Linked DNA regions of Homo sapiens: region 1 is linked to region 2. Evidence: fine-mapped expression QTL. A gene starts in region 2. The other region holds a variant in brackets. All regions are shown on one strand. Distances are between the middles of the regions. Region 1 overlaps MYB (MYB proto-oncogene, transcription factor). Region 2 holds the start of MYB (MYB proto-oncogene, transcription factor).

Region 1 (2,908 bases), 24 kb after region 2:
TTTTATCAGTGCAGATTCCCCAAAGCATGATGAAATGAAACATTTCTTACTGTGACTGAGACTAAGATGTATTACACGTGTGTCACTATCTTCTTCTGCCCTCAAATGTTTTATAAAAATATATCAATATAGTTTACTTTATGTTCCAAATTTTTTATTTTTTATGCTGTATCCCTAGGCAACCAAAGCTCAGAGACTGTTCCAATTTTAAATGAAGTCTGAAATTAGTCAGACAGAAAATAATTGCAATGTATTTGACTGTCAGAATAAGAAAGTCAACTGTCAATGTTGTGAGGCCGATCTGAAGTTGACCATCTGCTGTCAGGTTTTAATATCAAAAGAGATTTCCCTTGTAACCCTAAAGTGGGTGTGTGTTGATGAAATATAACCAATTCCAAATTAATCCTGAGCCAAATGTAAATAAGAATGCAAATTTTGCTTCCCTAAATTATTTAAAGCAGTTTCTGACATTAAATAGCCCAATACCCAGCCACCTGCAGAGCCCTCTCCTCCATCCCCCTGTGCCATGCAGAGGGAAACTTCATAACCCTAGAGGAAGTGAAGAGCCTGGATTCAGAAGCTGAAGGTCATATTTCTTGCTGTAAGTTAAATGGCACGATCATAGGACAGCAGCCTTTGAGTCTGCCCATTACCTTAAAGGGATTTCCCATTCTTGTGATAGTTTCTCCTTCCAAATTGTGAGAATCTGAAAACTTGCCCGGTAAGTATTTGTGATGCTTAGTTTTTCAGGGTTTTTTGTTGATGTTGCTTTGTTTTTTGAAACAGGGTCTTACCCGGTGGCCCAGGCTGGAGTGTAGTGGGGTGATCTCGGCTCACTGCAACCTCCGCCTCCCAGATTCAAGTGATTCTTATGCCTCAGCCTCCCAATTAGCTGGAATTACAGGTGTGAGCCACCGGCAACCCAGCCGTTTTTTTGTATTTTTGGATAGAGACAAGGTTTTGCCATGTTGGCCAGGCAGGTCTCGAATTCCTGGTTTCAAGTGATCTGCCCACCTCGGCCTCCTACAGTGCTGGGATTACAGGTGTGAGCTACCGCACCTAGCCAGTGCGTAGTATTATTGTAAAATAAGGATTGCAAGCACATTTTGTTTAATTAAATCAGATTGCTTCCTTCCTGGCCTCTCTCTGACAGCAATTGTTTTGGTAAAATGGCTGTGGACTGGAATGTGAGACAGGGAGTCAGTATTTATGGGGAATCTGGACAAGTTCCTGCGTCAGTGAGGCTGGAGTTGGCCCCGTGTGGAGAAGACTCAGAATACCACAAAGAGGCCAGACGCAGTGGCTCATGCCTGTAATCCCAGCACTTTGGGAGGCCAAGGCGGGTGGATAACTTGAGGTCAGGAGTTTGAGACCAGCCTGGCCAACACGGTGAAACCCCATCTCTACTAATCCCAGCTACTCGGGAGGCTGAGACAGGAGGATCGCTTGAACCCAGGAGGCAGAGGCTGCAGTGAGCCGAGATCATGACACTGCACTCCAGCCTGGGTGACAGAATGAGACTCCATCTCAAAAAAAAGAATATCACAAATAATTGGGAGATGA[G/A]GAAGAGAATGAACTCCACCCAGACATAAGAGGAACCCAGAAAGGGAGTTACAAAGATTTCAAGGCAAAGGGCAGCCATTTCAAAATTTTCCTGAAAGCTGTTCTTAGGTCCAGAAGAAAAGCTTTTGCTTTTTTTTTTTTTTTTAATTATTCCCACCTAAGTTACTTGGCTCTTGGTTTCTAGAGAACAGAATTCAACTACTGCTATTCGTGTTTTAATTAAGTTAGATTAAGTTTTGCATATATTTTCTAACCTAGTCTGGGGCCAACTTGTATTTGTAGTAGTACAGAAAAAGTCTGTTCTAAATTTCAAAAAGCCAACACATCAATATACTTGGGGACAATTACCATTACATAAGTTGAAACCCATAGTTCAGTATTGAGCTTTATCAGTATATTTGTATTTTATTTAATGGAAATATTGGTTATCTTTGAAACTCAAAATTAAGTTATAGCTCTATTTTATTAATCTGTATTCTCCTGTCTATCAGTGAGTCATATTGGCACTTTATGAATTCTAACATCTGTACACTGAGATTAAGTTGTGTATGGTGAAGGTAATATTTGTCAATTCTATCAAACTGAATAATTGAGACTTGAAAGTTAATTTTAGAGTCAATACTCCTGTCTAAACCATATAGTTTACTGGTTTACACTGACCAGATATATTTTAATAATCTGCTATAAAGCCAGGCTCAGTGGCTCATGCCTGTAATCACAATACTTTGGGAAGCCAAGACTGGAGGATAGCTTGAGACCAGGAATTTGAGACCAGCCTGGGCAACATAGTGAGACTCAGTCTCTATTAAAAAATAATTAGCTGGGCTGGGCGTGGTGGCTCACGCCTGTAATCCCAGCACTTTTGGAGGCCGAGGTGGGCGGATCACGAGGTCAGGAGATCGAGACCATCCTGGCTAACACGGTGAAACCCCGTCTCTACTAAAAATACAAAAAAATTAGCCGGGCGTAGTGGCGGGCACCTGTAGTCCCAGCTACTTGGGAGGCTGAGGCAGGAGAATGGCATGAACCCAGGAGGCGGAGCTTGCAGTGAGCTGAGATAGCGCCACTACACTCCGGCCTGGGTGACTGAGCGAGACTCCATCTCAAAAAAAAAAAAAAAAAAAAAATAATAATAATAATAATAATAATTAGCTGGGTGTAGTGGTACATACCTGTAATCCTAGCTACTTGGGAGGCTAGGGCAGGAGGATCCCTTAAGCCCAGGAGTTCAAGGTTACAGTGAGCTATGATTATACCCCTGCACTCTAGCCTGGGAGACAAGACCAAGACCTTGTCTCTAAAAAAAATTTTTTAAGGCCAGCCGTGGTGGCTCACACCTGTAATC
Region 2 (2,908 bases):
ATGCTTTTTTAGTAAGAAAAAATGCTTTCTGAGCTAAGTTTGAACTGCTGGGGCACATGGGACACCCACAAACCCAGTCAGCAGAAGTCTCAAACTCCTAAAAGATTAAAGGAAAAATACATTAGTGTGTACAGAGAATGAAAAAAAAATCCCCAATGGTTCTAATCTATAAACGGAAGTAAAACTAAAACTCCCCTAAAATCCCCCCAGTCATCAATCCTTATAAATTCAGCACTTATCTTCTTCCTTTACTTCTGGAGACCCTCATTAAACAACACGAAAGCCTTTGCTGACTTTTATCTCGTAAAATAGAGCCCTCAAATGACACTAAGCAGGGATACCGACCTCCAAAATCACAAACTGTTTTACTTCTAAAACCATGCATGCAAACGTGGGGTTTCCTGAGTTCTGCTAGGGGCGGGCTGTCTGGACCCCCGTGTATTTTTTTTTTTTTTTTTTTTTTTTTTTTTTTTTTGCAGGTGTGCAATCCAGGGTGCGCGCTCTGTGCAGGGAGGGGAGCAAAGGTGTGCGGTGGGCACCGCCTGGGCCGGGCGGGGCGGGGTGGGTGGGGCCCGGGTGTGTGCTGGGGTGAGAGTGAAGGACATGTGACAATACGACGGTGGCGGCTGCAGGATCCGGGAGGGGAGTGAAAGCTCCGCTGGGGCGCTCCATTAGTGAGCGGTGATGGTTGCCGCCCACTTGTATTGAAGCGTCCTTTGTCACTAACAAGTTAAATTAGAGATGTTATTTATTTAAGAAGAAGGAAAAAAAACCCTAGCCAAACAGCCTATGAATACATATGCTCACATCCCCTACTCCTCCAACTCCTAATTTCCCCGTCTCCAGAGGGCACAGTTGTAAACCTTGACGAAAATCCAATCTTCTGTGCGGGAATTTCCCCCCACCGCTTGCCGCCCCCGCGACAGTGAGTGGGAGCTGGAGGAGCTCTGGTCCCGCTGCCCGGGAGCACGCGGAGCCGGGCGACCGCGGTGCGGCAGCCAGGGAGGAGGGGAGGCGGCGGGACTGGGCGCGGGTCGGCGCCGCCGCGACCCGGGAGCGGGGTTTGCTCAGGAAAAGGCGCCGTCGCGGCCCCCGGCCACCCCTCCCTGGCCCCGGGCTCCCTGCCCGCGCGCCTCCCGGGCCTCGCGGCGCGCTAGGCGCACCGCGGCGGCGCGAGCGCCGAATGGGAGCGGCGACCCGGCCAGCCCGGCAGCCCCGCGGGCGGCAGCCAGGGCGACCGCGGAGGCGGCGGGCAGGGCGCGTGCGCACTGCAGGGGCGCCAGATTTGGCGGGAGGGGGAGTGTCCAAAGCTCTTTGTTTGATGGCATCTCTGTTTACAGAGTTTACACTTTAATATCAACCTGTTTCCTCCTCCTCCTTCTCCTCCTCCTCCGTGACCTCCTCCTCCTCTTTCTCCTGAGAAACTTCGCCCCAGCGGTGCGGAGCGCCGCTGCGCAGCCGGGGAGGGACGCAGGCAGGCGGCGGGCAGCGGGAGGCGGCAGCCCGGTGCGGTCCCCGCGGCTCTCGGCGGAGCCCCGCGCCCGCCGCGCCATGGCCCGAAGACCCCGGCACAGGTAACGGGGAGCCGGGCGGGCGGCCGAGGGCGGGGGCGCGCGGGGGCGCGCGGGGCGCCAGGCTCCCGGGAGCAGGTGGGAATTCGTTCCGGGATCATCTGAGGGGCTGTCAGACCCTCCGAGGACCTGGAGCCCCTGCCTCGGCAGCAGAAGCCGCTCCAGAGACTGATGAATGGAAGAGTCTTTGCGGGAAATGTATCCGGACGTTGGGAAGCACGCCCTGCGGCTCATTTTGCAAGTTGCATGGGGATACATTTTTCTTTAGGGGGAAAAAGAAAGCACGTTCCAGCCGAGGGCAGAGCGGTGCCCACCAGCCCCGGGGAGCCCACCAGGTGCCTGGCTTGATGCCGCGGGTGTCGGCGAGGGATCCGCAGCGTAATTGCTGGATGCATTGAGATATGTTTGGACTTGGAAGTGCAGAGCATATGGCAGATACAGGGAAAATGCTGGATTGTTTAGTAGCTGCAGGTAGTTCATTTAAATTTCATTCATTCTTTATGGAGGCGAGGACCAGTGTCAGCTGACAGGCGGCTGAAAAGCAGATTTTAGGGGGATAAAGGGGTCTCTACTTTTGCAAATTGTCTTAAGACCTGGTTTTGGAGGTTCGAATCATTTTTCTCTGAAAGGCTTTTACTTCCACTGCAAACATTGCACGCGCACCCACACGCGCCGCCGTCGCACATGTCACTGCACTTAGGGAGGCTCGCCGGGAAGATGGGTGCAGTCCCTTCACATTTTTGGCCGGACAGATGGGAAGAGGGAGAGGAGGAGGAGGAGGGAAATCCTCGTCCGAACTGTCAGTTGCTCGTTCCCCAGTCTCCACCGGCCTCTGGACTTTCCCAGCAGCACACGCCGGGGCTCCCTGCGAGCGGCGGGTGCCAGGGCTAGCTCGGCAGCCGTCGCAGTCGCCACTCGGCTCAAGGGGACAGAGGCCGGCAGCACCCAAGGCCGCTGCCGCGCAACCGGGACGCGATCCCCGCGGGCTCTGCCCCCAGGCGAAAGGTCCCTGCGCGGCGCGCACACGTGGATGCGGCTGAGGTCGCCGCGCCTTCTCGCACCCTCCTTCAGCCGCCTTAGGTCGCCCCGGCCGAGGCGCGGTGACCGGACAGACCCTCGCGAAGGAGTTCTAAGGCGAAGTCCATGGAGGCAAAGCAAATCCATTCGCCTTTCCTTAGATTGTTTGATTTTCTCCTACTGGTTTGTTGTTGAGCCTGCGGGCGCTGGTCCCCGCGCGGCGCTGGGAAGTTGCAAAGAGCGTGGGTGGAGACCCTGCAGCAGCACCCGCGGGCTGGGCTGGGCGGGGAGCAGCGCCGGGGCTTGGTTGGGCTCTGGGG

The links.
Region 1: its variant is fine-mapped to the expression of MYB in lung (TOPMed, PIP above 0.99). The same link has a PIP of 0.9 or more in monocytes.

What each region holds. Positions count from the first base shown.
Region 1 is chr6:135,203,538-135,206,445 of GRCh38, forward strand. The region is part of intron 15 of MYB (MYB proto-oncogene, transcription factor); the gene reads left to right. The region is part of intron 2 of LOC105378011 (a long non-coding RNA gene); the gene reads right to left. Among named protein-coding and RNA genes, the nearest start is that of MYB, 24 kb to the left of the region's middle. The variant G/A (reference allele first, on the strand shown) is at 1,564.
Region 2 is chr6:135,179,963-135,182,870 of GRCh38, forward strand. It overlaps MYB (MYB proto-oncogene, transcription factor), which reads left to right and starts at 1,346. Exons shown (of 16, transcript NM_001130173.2): 1 at 1,346-1,574. The coding sequence starts at 1,552. RefSeq lists silencers at 465-574, 1,015-1,064, 1,135-1,354, 1,415-1,464, 2,514-2,593 and 1 more.